Regions from separate parts of the Homo sapiens genome. Here region 1 is linked to region 2. A link means that fine-mapping ties the variant in region 2 to the expression of a gene that starts in the linked region. Tissue or cell type: monocytes after LPS. Region 2 holds a variant in brackets; the other region holds the start of a gene. All regions are shown on one strand. Distances are between the middles of the regions. Region 1 holds the start of CORO2A (coronin 2A). Region 2 overlaps TBC1D2 (TBC1 domain family member 2).

What was found.
Region 1: it holds the start of CORO2A, and the variant in region 2 is fine-mapped to the expression of CORO2A in monocytes after LPS (Quach 2016, PIP 0.95). The same link has a PIP of 0.9 or more in monocytes.

The regions. Positions count from the first base shown.
Region 1 is chr9:98,187,999-98,196,326 of GRCh38, forward strand. CORO2A (coronin 2A) reads right to left here and starts at 4,639. Exons shown (of 12, transcript NM_052820.4): 1 at 4,561-4,639. RefSeq lists enhancers at 3,492-4,146, 7,383-7,899 and silencers at 4,299-4,348, 4,419-4,968.
Region 2 is chr9:98,211,395-98,219,722 of GRCh38, forward strand. TBC1D2 (TBC1 domain family member 2) reads right to left here. Exons shown (of 13, transcript NM_001267571.2): 7 at 1,714-1,824. Among named protein-coding and RNA genes, the nearest start is that of MIR6854, 14 kb to the right of the region's middle. RefSeq lists a silencer at 7,373-7,667. The variant G/T (reference allele first, on the strand shown) is at 4,987.

The sequences.
Region 1 (8,328 bases), 23 kb before region 2:
CAGGATTCCATTATGAGCATGGTGGGGTACACAGTCTAGCCCAGGGCCTGCCTGCTCCTCTCTTCCTCTTCTCCCGCCATCACTCTGTCCCAGCTCGTGCTTCTCTGAACATGCCAGGCATGGTCCTGCCTCAGGGCTTTTGCCCCAGCTGTTCCCTCCACCTGAATGGCTGTTTCCCCAGAAATGAGCCTGACTCACCCCTCTCCTTCAAGCCTTTGCCTAAAAATCACCTTCTCAATGAGGCCCCCAGCCCACCCTAGTTAAAACTGCCCCCTCACACACCCTAACCCCTCCTATGTTCTATTTGCTCCACCTCATTTATCACTGATTTTATTTATCACCTATTCATCTATTTTATTTATTGTTTTTCATCTGTCTTCCCCCCATCTGATTGTAAGCTCTTTGGGGGAAGATCTTTCTGGTCTATTTTGTTTAATATCAGCGCCTTCCCCCTTTCCCCAGCACTTAGAAAATACCTAGTACAGGTCAGGTGTGTTGGCTCACATCTGTAATCCCAGCACTTTGGGAGGCCGAGACAAGCGGATCATTTGAGGTCAGGAGTTCGAGTCCAGCCTGGCCAACATGGCGAAACACCGTCTCTACTGAAAATACAAAAACTAGCTGGTGTGGTGGCACGCACCTGTAATCCCAGCTACTCAGGAGGCTGAGGCATGAGAATCACTTGAACCCAGGAGGCAGAGGCGGAGGTTGCCGTGAGCCGGGATCATGCCACTGCACTTCAGCCTGGGAGACAGAGCGAGACTCTGTCTCAGAAAACAACAACAACAACAAAAAACAACAACAAAAACAAAACAAAAGAAACAAACAAAAAAACTAGTACAATGTAGGTGCTTAATAAATACTGGCTGAATGACTAATGGAATGAATGAACATAAAGCACTTAGGACAGAATTAGGCAGGCGGTAAACCCTCAATGAATGTTAGCTATTATTATTACTGTTAGTGATTCTTCAAAGTGAGGCTCCCATGTCCCTCCTCCTTGACTTCTGCAAGCTCATAATCACACCTTCCTTGTCCCCACCACACCCTGCCAATCTCTCAATTATAGTAAGGAGCACACCGCTCTTTAAATACCTGTATATCTTTTTCCATTTAGGCTGAACCAAATGAAATTGCCATTTCTTGTAAGTCAAAAAAAGTCACATACTGGCCGTTTCATGTGGTTTAACCTAGTAAGTTTCCCATAGCAGCCTGCAGACCCCCAGGAGGCACAGTTTGACCACAGAAGCAAAGTCACCTACTCCTGGCCCTTTAGACCAGGTGTGATTGCAAAGCACGTCCAATCTGTTCTGAAGGAGGCAAGGCATGGATTATAGACTTAAAACACAAGAAGATTCTGCTGAATTATTTTCTGGACCTCCTGAGATTTGGCAGAGAAGATAAAAACACACCAACTTCTAAAACGATCCAGCTTCTGGCCATTTTGAAATAGCAAAGGTTTAAGGCTGAAACCCCTCGGTGGGGAGCTAGCTACCTGCCTCTAAGGGGATTCATTTAATGAATCTCCTTCCAATCTCGGCTTTGCTACTGAGATTTGTTCACTCTAAGAGGTTGGCTGTCAGAGCTCAAACAAATTCAGCAACTGCTGAGTCTACCCCCATTTCACAGATGGAGAAAGTGAGGTCCAGAGAGGGGAACGGATCGGCCCAAGGTCACACAGTAGGGAAGAGGAAGACTTCAATCTGGAATCTATGTCTGCTGACTTTAGTCTCATGGTCTTTCTTCTGGATTAAACTGTTTCTATGCTGGCCAGACTCCGGTAATGTAAGCTTCAGTGCCACTATTTTTTAAGCTGTATTTGTCAAATGAAATGTTTATTAAGCCTCAGATAAAACTGAACACTTCTTCACTAGACGGCAACTCCTTTATTTTTTTTTTTTTTTGAGATGGAGTCTCGCTCTGTCGCCCAGGCTGGAGTGCAGTGGCACAATCTCGGCTCACTGCCACCTCTGCCTCCCGGGTTCAAGTGATTCTCCTGCCTCAGCCTCCCGAGTAGCTGGGATTACAGGCATGTGCCACCACACCCAGCTAATTTTTATATTTTTAGTACAGACAGGATTTCATCATGTTGCCCAGGCTGGTCTCAAACTCTAGACCTCAGGTGATCCGCCCACCTTGGCCTCCTAAAGTGCTAGGATTACAGGCATGAGCCACTGTGCCTGGCCAGAAGACAACTTCTTACAAATAACAGCACTACATATGTCTCTCTCCCTAGTTACTTCCTTAGGATAAAGTCCCCAAAGTAGCCGGCTAAGGGCAAAGGGCAAATATGATCATTTTCATGATAACAGGCTGCCAGGTTGCTCTGCAAAATTAAATGCCACAGGCGAATCCCTATAGCCTTGCCAGCACAGAGTTTCATCTTTTTATTTTTATTTTTGCTAATTTTACAGGAATAAATACAGACTGCTTTCATTTATTATATGTTATGTGTTTTTTTGGAGAAAAAAAGGCACTCCAATCTTGGAATCAGGATCCCTGGGCTCGGTTGCTGGTTTGCTGTGTGACCTTTGCCCAGTCACATCCCCTCTGGCGACAGGGGATGCCTATCTGTAAAATGAGGGGGTTGAATGAGACGACGTCTGAAGGCTCCTTTCAGCTCAGACATTCCATGATTCCATGGTGCATTTAAAAAGTATTAGCAATTAAAGTCATAGCATGACTTTTTAATAACCAGAATCTGCCATGCTCCTAAATCAGGCCAAAAAGGCTTGAATTAGGCAAGCAGGAAAACAGGGCCCAGATTATACATGTGTCGAGATGACAGGAGACCCAGGTAGCACTTAAGCCTGTGCGTCGGAGCTGGGCTCATGGGCCAGCACATATACTTTGCCTGCTTTTACGAGGGGATAATAACACTCATTTGTGGTCCAGCTCCCAGTCCTGTGCAGCTCCACCATGGCCGCAGGGCAAGGTCATAGGCACTACTTCAGCCCTAGAATTCCATAGACTTTCAGTCCAAGGTAGCTCACCCCCAGGTTCTGCTTGAATACCTGTGATGACAAAGAGCTCACTACCTGTCCAGGGGCCTCCTGCCCTCTTTTGGCTGTTAAGAAAATCCCTGGGTGCAGGGCAGGTCATGAAGGGGACAAGAAAGACCAGGAGGCTGAGAAGTGATTCCTAGAAACTGCTCCCTCAAACAGGGCAGGCATCAGGGAGGTGGAGAAGAGGCCCCATGGGGCAGGAAAGGCCTGCAGAGGGGCTCCGGCTCTCCTCACTCCGGACCTCTCAGACGGTCCCCAGGAGGGGCAGGAAGCTGGGGAGACACATTCCAGTCCTGATGCACAGGTGGGTTCTGAACAAGCCCCAGGAAAGCGGAGGCCCCACAGCCTGCTCCAGGGCAGACACCTCGGCTCCCTCTTCTTGCCTTGGCTCCCTGGGATCTGATGGGAGAAACTGCTGGGCCTGGGGCTGCTGGGTCTGGAGATGAGCATATTTAAGGGACCTGACCACTGCCCCAGGGTGAGGGAGGAAGGGTCAGAGGTTGTTTGTGTGTCCAGAGCAGGACCAGCAGGAGAGGCAGTGACTGGGTAGCAGATTCCAGCTTGGTTTACAACTAGTGAGATTCCTATCACAAGGAGTGTGCAAGGGGGCAGCAAGACCTTCCAGAGGGGATCTTACAGAGGGGCTGGGCCAGATGCCATAGGTCTTCTTTACCTAGGGAGCCTGGGACCACAGTCCCTCAGACCTGTGCTCTGCCCCATCCCTTAATGCCACGCGGACACAGCACCTTGGCACTGTCACCCCTCTGAGGTCCAGGCGTGGCCGCCAGTCACCCCTTGTCACACCAGCTAGTGTGTGTCACACCTTATCACACACTAGCTCTGGGACACAGAGCTAGGCACCAGCACCTGGCCCGGGTGGGGAAGGGGAAGGAGCTATCCTATACCACTCTCTAAATCGAGGTGCCTACGTGGGGCTGGTCCAGGCAGTCGTGCCGCCAGGAGTCCAGCCACCTCCAACCTAGGGCTCCTCCAGCCCCAGACGAGTAAACCCTCTTGGCGGGCCGGCTGATGCCCCACATGCACGCCCAGGCCGGCTTGGCGGGGACCCGGGGATGCCCCCCACCCCACCGTTTCCTGTACCAGGAAGCTGAGGCCCAGCAGGTAACGCAGCCAAGAGGGGGAGGGTCCCGACAAGAGTCCCATGGAGCACCCGGGCCACAGCAGGGGCCTGTCGGGACCGGCTGGCCGCGCCCAGAGTGAGCTTCCCTCACCGCGGGCAGGAGGGGTGGGCGGTGCAGACAGTGCTCATGAGGGCAGCGAGCCGTCGGGAGCCCGGACCTCGAGGCGGCCCCTCCCAACAACCCCGCGAGAAGGGGGCCACCAATGAGCAAGCTATCCTGACGGGGAAACTGAGGCCTGGAGAGGAGCAGTGCTTTGTGCAAGGTCACGCAAAGGGGCTGAAAGCCAGGTCCCCCGCGCTCCGAGCCCCGCATCCCTCCCTCTCCGGGAGCTGCAGCCGCAGCGCGCACGTCCCGCCCGACGCCCCCATCGCGCAGACCGGGAAGGCACGGCCGGCGGCGCAGGGCCGCCCTACCTTGATGACTGCCGCGCAGGTGGCGGTGGCGGCGGCGGCGTCCAGCTCCGGCTCCGCGCTCCTCGCCGCCCGCCGACTCCCGGCGCCCAGAGCCGCCGCCGCCTCCCCCTGCAGCCCGGCGGGCGGGGCCGGAGGGCGGGGCGGGGGCCTGGCCCAAGGTCCGCCCTTTTGCCCGCCCCGCGGGTCCGCCCTGGCCACCCTTTTCCGCCCCCACGACCCCGACCGCGCTCCTGGCTCCCCGGGGCGGGTCTCGGGGCGCGCACACGTGCTGGGAACAGGCGCGCACACGCCGCAGTGATTGGGGCGGGCTGCCGGCCACCAGGCGGAGGCTGGGGACAGGCAGAGCCGCGGGCCCCACGTCGCGCCGTGCCCTCGCTGCGTGGTGTGGGATGAGGAACCTGACCTCCCGGAGCCTCAGTTTCCCCCGTTGTGAAATGGAGACAGTAACCGCGTCGGCCTCTTAAGGCTGTTTGAGCCCTGGATGTGACGATCCCGGCCGGGTACAGTGCGCGCGCCGAGCCCGGCCAGGGAAGCGCTCCTTTCCCCGAGCAGTTACAGCGGTTACCGAGGCTTCCCCGTCCGCAGGGAGGAGAGGAGCCGGGAGCGCCGCTGGGAACCGAGGAGGACGCCCTTCCTTCTCTCGGGACCAGCCGGGGGCGCTGCTGCCAGCCTCGCTGGCTGGAGAGCCCTGAGGACACTAGACAATGGGGAGGCCCTACCTTTGGGTACCACCCCCACCTAACACTACTGAGCCACGCACTCCTCTAAGCGCCTTCTGTGCATTACCTCGCTTCACTGTCACACAGGCCTATGAGGTTGATACCATTACTCACCTATTTAACACAAAAGAGCTGAGGCACAGAGATATTAAGTACCTAGGTTAAGATCACCCGGCTAGTCATGCAACCCCAGGCAGTATGGCTCCCACGGCTACTAAGCTAACAGCCACTCCACTCCACACCACGTCTGTGAAGAGCTCTTGGTTTTGTTCAGTAGAGACGGGTTATCTTGAGGGCCTTGAACTGCTCCGTGGCACATAGTAACCACTCAATATATAGTTGTGGAGTGGATAACAGAGTACACTGTTACTACTTTACATATCTGTATCGTTTCTTCTAAGCTTCTAATAATAGTGGCTTTATTTAGCCACTATTATTACCTCCATTTTACAGATAAGAAAACTGAGGCTTGGAGTGGCAAGGTACTTAGGGAGCTCTTGATTCTCTCCTTAGAATGTGACTCAGCTTCCATAGTCCACTGTACCACCCCCCTGCCCAGAGCTGGACGGGCTCCCTGCCTACCACCCAAAGCCCAGTGTGCACTATGGTCCTGAAAACCCCATCCTACAGCTCTGATTCAGACCTTCTGGAGCTGGATTGCCCAGCAGGTAGACTGAACGCATGCTTCTGGTGTTAGCGTGCAAGAGTTGGGTATCAAGCATATGGATGGCTGGGCGCAGTGGCTCATGCTTGTAATCCCAGCACTTTGGGAGGCCAAGGCAGGTGGATTGCTTGAGCTCAAGAGTTCAAGACCAGCCTGGCCAACATGGTGAAAACCTGTCTCTACTAAAAATACAAAAATTAGCCGGGCGTGGTGGCATGTGCCTATAGTTCCAGCTACTTGGGAAGCTGAGGCAGGATAATCACTTGAACCTAGGAGGTGGAGGTGGCAGTGAGCCGAGATCACATCACTGCACTCCAGCCTGGGCTACAGAGTGGGACTCTGTCTCAAACAAACAAACAAACAAACAAACATATGGATGAAATCAGAACATTGTGGGAATTCTTTATAATCATGGTTTGGTTTTTACTTGAATTACAGCTGGACGGTGGGCACCATGATCTTTCCCAGGCTAAGGCATCTGAATAACTTTGTTGTTGTTGTTTTTGCATGGTTTTGTTCTGTCGCCCAGGCTGGAGTGCAGTGGCACAATCCTAGCTTGCTGCAGCCTCCACCACACAAGCTCAAGCAATCCTCCCACCTCAGCCTCCCGAATGGCTAGAACTACAGGTGCGTGCCACCATGCCCAGCCAATTTTTATATTTTTTGTAGAGATAGGGTTTCGCCACGTTGCTCAGGCTGGTCTCCAACTCCTGGGCTCAAGCAATCTGCCTGCCTTGGCCTCCCAAAGTGCTGGGATTACAGGTGCGTGCCACCACGCCTGGCCTTGAATGTCTTAATTCACTTAGGGCTTGGGCCAGCATCTCTGGTGTGGCTTTCTACCTCTGCCAATGCCACTCGCCTTGCACTCTGACATCTCTGAGCCTTTGCTCTGTCTGCAGTTCTCTTCCCAAATCATCATCTCCCTTGTCTAAACCCACTCATCCTTCCAGGCCTAGCCTTCCTAGATGTCCTATGGATGTGCCCTCCAAGGCTTGCACCTGCATCTTCCTACCCTGTGCCATGGTGGTTGGTGGCTGGGACTGTTTGGGGAACAGCTGGTTTGACAGAGACATCTCTGGGGGCTGTGGGCATATGGACCCATAAGCCAGAGGGAGACCTCTGCAATGAACCTGGGACCCTTCCTGGGGTTGCTGTGGCTGGGGAGTGTCCTCCTCTCTTGCCCCTTCCCTCCCTCTAATCCTGGTCCAGATGCAGGATTGCACACATGGGGAAACTGAGGCCACAGTGGGCATGACCTACGCAGGATCCCCTAGCTAGAAAACCACATAGCAGATCTGGTTCCAAAGTTGGGCCCATCTCCTGGCATCTTCTATTAGGCCTTAGTGTGGATTGGGATGGGCCAGGAAACCTCCCTCTTCCTTCCCAGTGCACCCACATGGCTGGCTTTGTTAATCTTCCATATGTGGGTAAACATCTTGTGCAGGACCAGAACATATGTGTGTGTGTGGTGGGGGTGGGGGGCAAGTTCTCCATCTATCTGCCCCACATGGAACTTTCTGTACGATATGGCCCCATGTCCATGGGGGAGGGGGTTGAGAAAGAATGAGGAGACAGTGCCTGGGGGTTGGGGAGGGGTCTGTGTTTGGAGGATAGTAGCCTTGAACACGGGCAATCTCTGGAAGTGAGTGAGCACCTCTTATGTTAGGGGTTGTTGGGAGGGGGGCCTTCCACCTCCTTTGACCCAGTCCCTTTATTCTTAGGGATGTTGCCCCAGGGAGGTTCCCTGGGTAATTCCCTTTTCCTCTCCTTTAGAGCAGGTCGGACCACAGCTTGCTGGGGGCCTAAGGCCTGGGGAAGGCATGCTTTGAGCATGAGGTCCTGTCCCCTAGGGTGGGAAGGTGGGGCTGAGAGGGATCGGATCCTCCAGCCCTGGAAGGCAGCAGCCCCAGGGGAAGGGGGCAACAGCTGTGGTGCGGGCCAGGAACCTGACACCAGGAGTGGGCCCCAAACACCCTCCAGAAAGAGCAGGGAAGGGCAAGCAGGCGCCCCAGGGGCAGCAACAGCAGGCACAGATGCTCTGGGGTGGGCCCACCAGTCCCTGCTCAGCCTCCTTGCCATGTGGGTATCATGCTTCTCTTGTTGTCTCTGATGAAGGGGAGAAATAGTGCTACAATCCCAGCGTGAGGCAACCATGAGGAAATTCTTCCTCTAGTTTTCCTTGGCTTAGAACTATCTTCTGAGGGTATCCCCAGGAGGCCACAGGCCAGGCATGCCCCTTCCCTAGGTCCTTGGGGAAGGTGTTCTAGGTTCCACAGGTGGGTTAAGCTGGGGGAGTCCTCCCTGGCTTTGCAGTAAGGGCTCTAGGCTTGAGCATGGCTCAACCAGTGGCTGTGTCACTTTGGATAGGTTAGCTAATGTCTCTGA
Region 2 (8,328 bases):
CACCCCTCCCACTTCACAGCCCTCCTGCACCCTCTTCCCTTGCTTGGGACACTCCCCCCAACCCTACCTCACCTTGAACTTTTGTGTTTACATTTATACAAGCTGGGTGGTGCTAGGCAAGTCAGGCAAGTTCCTTGTTTTCCATTTTTGTGAGATGGGGACAGTGAAAATCCACTCATAGCACTGCCATGATCTCTGGGCCACCCCGAATCCTATCTCATCCTGGGGTGGCAGCAGGGGAACAATTCTGTTGCACCCTTGCCCGGTCGCCATCTCCAAACACTTGCCGGGCACCAGCTCCAAGCCATCCTCTGTGCCTGTTCTTCTACCTATCCCACCTGGTGCCCACCTCTGTTGCCTGGGCTGCTTCCTGAGTCCCATCGTTAACACCTGTTTCAGGGATTCCTTTTTTTTTTTTTTCCTGAGAGAGTCTCGCTCTGTCATCCAAGCTGGAGTGCAGTGGCATGATCTTGGCTCACTGCAACCTCTACCTCCGGGGTTCAAATGATTCTCGTGCCTCAGCCTCCTGAGTAGCTGGGATTACAGGTGTGCACCACCACGCCCAGCTAATTTTTGTATTTTTGGTAGAGGCGGGGCTTCACCATGTTGCCCAGGCTGGTCTTGAACTCTAGCCCCAAGGGATCCACCTGCCTCGGCCTCCCAAAGCGCTGGGATTACAGGCCTGTGCCACCGCACCTGGCCCCTTCTCAGGGATTTCTGCTGCTGATTCCAAACAATCTCCCTACTTCCAGGCCCACCTTCTCAAGCCCACCCTCCTGAGCAGTCACAGCAGTCTTCTTGGAACAGGAACAGAAGTCTGATTGAGGACTTCTCCACTCAGAATCCTTCAGCTCCCCAGTTTCCTTGGAGTAAATTCCAAACTCCTCAACTCCAGCCTCATGTCTCACTCTCCCTAGCCCTGCCCCCCACCTCTCAGACCACACGTCTTTACTATGCTGTCTCTTTTCCTGGAAGGTCCTTCTCCACTGCTTGCCTGGATAACATTAACTCATCCTTAGGACTCAATTCAGAAGGTACCTCCTCCAGGAAGCCCTCCCTGACTTTCCTTCCTCCCTTTGGGCCCCCAAGAATCCCACAAGTCCAAGTGCATCTTTTTTTTTTTTTGAGACAGAGTCTTGCTCTGTTGCCCAGGCTGGAGTGCAGTGGCGCAATCTCGGCTCACTGCAAGCTCCGCCTCCCAGGTTCACGCCATTCTCCTGCCTCAGCCTCCCGGGTGGCCGGGACTGCAGGCGCCCGCCACCATGCCCGGCTAATTTTTTTTTGTATATTTAGTAGAGATGGGGTTTCACCGTGTTGGCCAGGATGGTCTCAATCTCCTGACCTTGTGATCCACCCGCCTCGGCCTCCTAAAGTGCTGGGATTACAGGTGTGAGCCACCACGCCTGGCCCCAAGTACATCTTGATTGGGTTACACTCCCTCACTAGTCTATACCCTCCTTGTAGGCAGGAACCAGCCTTATTGGTCTTGATGTCCCTACCCCACAGCTACTCAGTGAACGCTGCGGAACAAATGACTCAATCCCCCGACCACAGGGGTCTGGAGAAGAACCTGATATGGGCCCTGCTCACAAGGGGTCAGTTCAGAGGGAGAGGGGCAGACAGGAAATGAGGAGAGTGAGACGGAGTGGGCAGCATGGGGACCAGCAGAGGGGCCAGGGATGGAGACGGCTGGAATAGGGCCCCACCCCGCACCTTCGTCAGAAGGGCCTTCTCCTTCTCAGCCACCTTTCTCCAGATCTTTGTGACCTGGTGGATCTCGGAGTTGAGGAAGCAGTTCTGGGTCCGGTAAGCTTCCATGTCATCCTGGAGAAGAGAGTAAAATATGTTATCAGTTGGACATAAACATCTCCCTGGTCCTGGGGAGTCACACCCTCAAATGAGCCCCCAAAGCTTCTTTTCCTTAGAAATTTCCAATAATGGCAACAGAAGAGGAAGTCTGAAAGAAAAATAAAATACTCATAGCACCCTTCTCTATTCTTGATGTCAGCATGATGTGGTAAAGGGACCAGTAGGTCTGAATTTAAGTCCTGGCTGATGTTCTGGCTGGAAGGCCTCAGGCAGGCCACTGAACCACTCTGACCCTCTGTTTCCTCATCTGTAAAAGGGGCAAATACCAACTAACCTACTGGGCAGTTGGGAAACTAAGTGAGATAATGTGTGACAACACTAAGTACAGGGACCAAAACATAGCAAGTGCTCAAGTAGTGTTTGTTTTTAAAATCAACATATTTTATCATATATTTACAATCATACTGTAAAATTAACTCAGTGTCACTTTGTAAAACCTTTCAATGTTGCTACATAAGCTTCCCAGTGATCATTTTTAACCTCTGGTGATGATTCTATTGGGTGAATTTACCAGAACTTACTCATAATCCTTTTCCTGTCATTTTTTAATTTGAACCTGGGGTGTTTGCAGTTGGTTTTTGATTATGAATAATGCTGTGATAAACATCTCTGAGTTTTCCTTTTGCAAGTTGCCCATCCAGTGGAGGGAATGAGCTCCCTGCTGCTGGGGCATACAAGGAGAAGCCAGACAAGCACTGGGAAGGTTCAAGCAAGGACCTGAGCCTCAGAGAAGGATCAGCTATAGCAGTGGCTCTCAATTCTGCTGGGATGGACATTACAGAAGCCGTTCAGTCACGTAACACATTCTTAGAGCTATACCTCACAATTCCAGGGTATTTACTGGCTGAAACTCAGGCCCTTTCTCTCCCATTGATGTATGGGCTGGAGGTGAGTGCAAGCGATGCTGCAGCAAGGATGACTCCGACATGGCCAGGTTGATTTGGAAATGAAGAACATCACATGTGCAAGCGATGCTGCAGCAAGGATGACTCCGACGTGGCCAGATTGATTTGGAAATGAAGAACATCACATGTGCAAGCGATGCTGCAGCAAGGATGACTCCGACGTGGCCAGGTTGATTTGGAAATGAAGAACATCACATGTGCAAGCGATGCTGCAGCAAGGATGACTCCGACGTGGCCAGGTTGATTTGGAAATGAAGAACATCACATGTGCAAGCGATGCTGCAGCAAGGATGACTCCGACGTGGCCAGGTTGATTTGGAAATGAAGAACATCACATGTGCAAGCGATGCTGCAGCAAGGATGACTCCGACGTGGCCAGGTTGATTTGGAAATGAAGAACATCACATGTGCAAGCGATGCTGCAGCAAGGATGACTCCGACGTGGCCAGATTGATTTGGAAATGAAGAACATCACATGTAGTTTGGGGCACATCCTCGTCAGGGTCACATGTGCACAGCCCACAGGTGGTCCTGGCCCTCCCTGGGTGGGTCTTCACTCTGGCCAAGATGATCTCCAAGGTCTCCCCAGGCTGGAAGCTCCGATGCCTGCCCAGGGGCTGCTGCCCTCCGCCCAGAGCCTGACACACTAGAAGGGCCTCTGCTCCCAGGGGAGGGAACGAATGCCCCCTGTTGACTTTATCACATCACCCCTCACCACTCCACGGGGGCTCTCTGTGGTGCCCCAACCCAGGCCACCCCTGCTTTCATCTCCCTCGCTGTGCCAAGGCTGAAAGGCTGTGCATCCACTCAGCTTGCTCTCTGCCTTCTGGCTGGACCCAGGCAGTTCCAACCCCTGGCGCCACCCTCCTCCCCCTATCCAATCCTGTCCCTGACCTAGATAAAAAACCAGCTTCACTGCCTCTCAAAAATGCTGCTGTGTGCGCCAGCCGCTCTGCTGGCAAGTTTCTGCCTGCTTCTTCTCCACAGTCCCCATATCCTATCCTTATGTGGCAAGAAGTGAAAATCTTGTTTGTGGCACAGGGACCAGTCTCCCATGAGCATCAGGCCTTTCCTGGACCACTCCCCACTCTCTCTGGAGTCTAACACTTTACTGTCTGGAGATATAGAAACTTATGAATACAGAGGCTGTGCAGGCTTCCGGCATCACCCCCATCACCAACACCACGCAGCATATATTCTCTCACTTCATCCTCCTAGCAACCCTAGAAGGGATGTTCTTTTATTATTCCTATGACACAGATGAGGCCTCAGAGGCTCTGAAAGGGTAGGCAACTTGCCTAAGGCACAGCCAGTATAAGGCAGATGTGACCAAACCCAGGTCTGTCTGATTCTTTTTGTTTGTTTGTCTTGCTCTGTCGCCCAAGCTGGAGTACAGTGGCGTGATCATAGCTCATGGCAGCCTCGACCTCCTGGACTCAAGCAATCCTCCCACCTCAGCCTGTCAAGTAGCTGGGACTATAGGCAGGCACCACCATGCCTAGCTAATTTTTTGATTTTGTAGAGACGAGGTCTCACTATGTTTCCCAGGCTGTTTTCAAACTCCTGGCCTCAAGCAATCCTTCCACCTCGGCCTCCTAAAGTGTTAGGATTACAGGCATGAGCCACTGTGCCTGGCCAGGACTGTCTCATTCTAAAGCCCTAATCACCAAACTTCCTGCCGGGCACCATCTGAGCTCCCCACCAGCTGGAATCCACCTGGATGCCCACACTCTAGTCCCTACCCTCCAAGCGTTGTCCTTTGGTGTCTCCTGGCTACACGCATGCAGGCTTATGTGACCTCTCCTACCCATCAGACAGTATAACAACACATCAAAGACGCTGGAGTTGGCCATGTACCGGCACCGCCTGGTGGTCAGTGGCATGAATGCTGCGGGCACGCTGTCTGGGTGGAAATTCTGTCTTGACCACTGAGCCCCTGGACAAGTTACTTAACCTCATCCTCTCATCTGGAAAATGAGGATAATAACAGTACTACCTCATGTGGCTGGGAGAGGATTCAGTGAGTTAATATGTGCAAAAGGCTCAGAACGGTGCCTGGCATGTGGCAAGTGCAACGTGAGCGTGAGCATCGTCTCCCTCACTGAGTTTGCATGACAGCTCGAGAGCTACTATTCCCCACCCTGCACCCACCCCCTCAGTCGGCTCACAGAGTTCGGAATCCAATGCCCGGGAAAATACAACAAGCCCCCCC[G/T]CAAGGGAGGAAAGGACCTACCATGACCTGACCCATCTCCCTCATATCCACAAGGCTGTGGGATAACTATTAAAGTGCCCTAATTCCCATTTAACAGATGAGGAAACACACACAGAGAAAGTAAGTTCCCCTTGTCACGAAAGAGAGCCAGGATCCAAACCCAGGTGTGTTCAGCCCATGGCAGGTGCTCAGCAGACACTGCGTAGAGAAAGCAGACCCAGCTCTGGCGCTGGCCACTGCTCCACACCACTGGGTCTCCCTCCTTGATATCACCCCTTCCTCCTCCCAGGCCTAGATGTGCTCATGGATATTTATTTATTTTTCTTTCTTTTTTTATTTTTAGAGAAAGGGTCTCACTTTGTCACCCAGGCTGGAATGCAATGGCATGATCATAGCTCACTGCACTCTTGACCTCCTGGGCTCAAGTGATCCTCCTGTCTCAGGCCCCTGAGTAGTTGGGACTACAAGTGTGTGCCACTACACCCAGCTAATTAATTTTTAATTTTTTAAAAAGGTCTCATTATGTTGCCTAGGCTGGTCTCAAACTCCTGGCCTCATGCAATCCTCCAACCGTGGCCTCTCAAAGCACTGGATTGTGAGCCACCACGCTTGGCTACACACTGTTATTTCTAAGGCTTTGGAAAGAAGGCTTTTGTCACATAAGATACCCTGCTTCCAGCTCTAGGGAAGGCACAGACATGCCGGACAGGGAGGCAGAGTGAGCACAGCCTGGAACAGCAGTGGCAGTGGGTGGCGTCGGGCAGTACCTCCCCCTCCAGCTCGATGCCCTACCTTGAGTGCTCGTCTTGGCTCAGAACTGTAGGGAGGAAAAAGAGAAACCTCAGAAAAGAGAAAAGCCACAGGACAGTCACCAGTGGAATGAAAGAAGGAAAACCCTGGAGAAGGGGGACCAGGGAAGCAGGAGCCCGGGAATTCTCTTTGGGCCATGCCCATGGACTAGGCCCTGTGCTGTGTGGAAGGCAGTGGCCTGGGCATGGGAGGCCAGGTTCCGGCTGTAGCCCTGCCTCTTGCTGCCTGACCCTGGGCCAGTCCTTCTCCCTTGCCCCAGCTCAGCTGTCCCTGCCAGAAAATGAGTGGGGCAGACTAGATTTCTGAGTCTTTCCAGATCTGATATTCAAGAGGTCAGTGATCCTGTTCTCAAAACCAAAGTCTGAATAACAAGGGGCATTCCCTAAAGTTGGGTTCCTCAATCACAGGGCAGGCAGGAAACCTCAACATTCTCTGTCCTCAAACTCAAGACAATGGATATTTGATGGGTATTCTAAAAGCTAAAAACTAAGGAACACCAACTACATGCAACTCTTTCTCTTTTTTATTTTTTTTTTAATAGAGACAGTGTCTTACTCTGTTGTCCAGGCTGGAGTGCAGTGGCGTGATCACAGTTCACCACAGCCTCGAACTCCTGGGCGGCTCAAGTAATCTCCCACCTCAGCCTTCTGAGTAGCTAGGACTATGGCGGGTGCCTTCATACCTAGTGAATTTATTTTATTTTTTTTTAGAGACAGGGTCTTGCTATGTTGCCTAGGCTGGTCATGAACTCCTGGGCTTAAGCAATCCTCTAGCTTCAGCTTCCCAAGTAGCTGGGACTACAGGCACGTGCTACTGTGCCTGGCTAATTTTTTAATTTTTTGTAGAGATGAGATCTTGCTATGTTTCCCCGGCTTGTCTCTAACTCCTGGCCTCAAGTAATCCTCCTGCCACAGCCTCCCCAAATGCTGGCATTACAGGTGTGAGCCACCCATGCCTGGCCTTATGCAACCCTTTAAAGCACAAAGCACAAAACACTGGGCCTCTGAGGATCATATGCAAGTGTATTCTTGGTTAATGTGAATCACATACCCAGAGTCTCCATGTAGCTGAGCTCACTGATAAAGAAAATTCATGGCCAGGTGCGGTGGCTCACACCTGTAATCCCAGCACTTTGGGAGGCCGAGGCAGGCAGATCACGCGGTCAGGAGATCAAGACCATCCTGGCTAACATGGTGAAACCCCGTCTCTACTAAAAATACAAAAAAATTAGCCGGGCATGGTGGCGGGCACCTGTAGTCCCAGCTACTCAGGAGGCTGAGGCAGGAGAATGGCGTGAACCTGGGAGGCGGAGCTTGCAGTGAGCCGAGACCGCGCCACTGCACTCCAGGCTGGGTGACAGAGCAAGACTCCGTCTCAAAAAATAAAAATAAAAAAAAATAAAATTCCTGAATATGTAAATTCAGGGGCACACTCAGTCTCCTAGTGAGTCCATGATTACAATCAACTCTCAGGCTGTCTGGAGCCACCTGGCTGATCTAGTGTTCTTTTTTTTCCTTTGAGATGGTGTTTCACTCCTTCACCCAGGTTGGAGTGCAGTGGCACAATCTCAGCTCACTGCAACCTCCACCTCGTGGGCTCAAGCGATCCTCCCACCTCGGCCTCCAGAGTAGACGGGAACACAGGCGTGCGCCACCACAAATCTTTCTGACCCCTGTGCTGCTCTACCGGGGCTTGCACAGTGGATTCCGGCAGTATGGGTGGAGAGAAGAGGAAGCCGCCTGGCTGGGGGCAGGCAGGGTAGAAAAGCAATCAGATGGAAGCAGTTTTCCCTGCTGTGTGGAGGGCTGAGAGCTTTCTAATCATCTGGCTGCATTTGCATTGGAAAGGTTATGTTTTTCTTTTAACCCAAAAGAATCTCTGATTTCAGACTAAATAAGGGAAAAGATTCGGGAACTGGTTATGTGGGTTTTCAGTCTTTGCTGAAAGAAAGGGAAGGGAATCAGGTTTCACGTCCTTTTCCTTTATCCTTCTAACAGCCCTAGTCAAGAGGACTAGTTGGGCTATTTGACACAGAGGTGAGCTAACATGCCTAAAGTCACACAGCCAGAAAGAGGCAGAGCCAAGAGTCAAAGAGGTCAGTCTGACTTCAAAGCTTGGGTGGTGGCCACTGTTCAACACTGCCCACTGAGAGCTTTTCTCTCAAAAGCTTCCTGATTTCTTTTTTTTTCTTTCTCCATCTGCCCTCACCGAGTAGTTCTTTGATAGAGTAGCATGAGAGTTCTCAAGGTTATAAGTCTATATGTACAGTCTCGTGTGGCTTAATTATGAGGATACACTCTGAGAAATGCGTCATTAGGTGATTTCACTGTTGTGCAAACATTGTAGACTGGACGCAGACAAACCTAGGTGATTTAGCCTACTACGCACCCAGCTAGATGGTGTAGCCTATTGCTCCGAGGCTGCAGACCTGTGCACCTGTTACGGTACTGAATACCATAGGTGGCTGTCACATAATGGCATTTGTGTATCTAAACACATGTAAACATAGAAAAGGTAGCATGTTGTGCTATG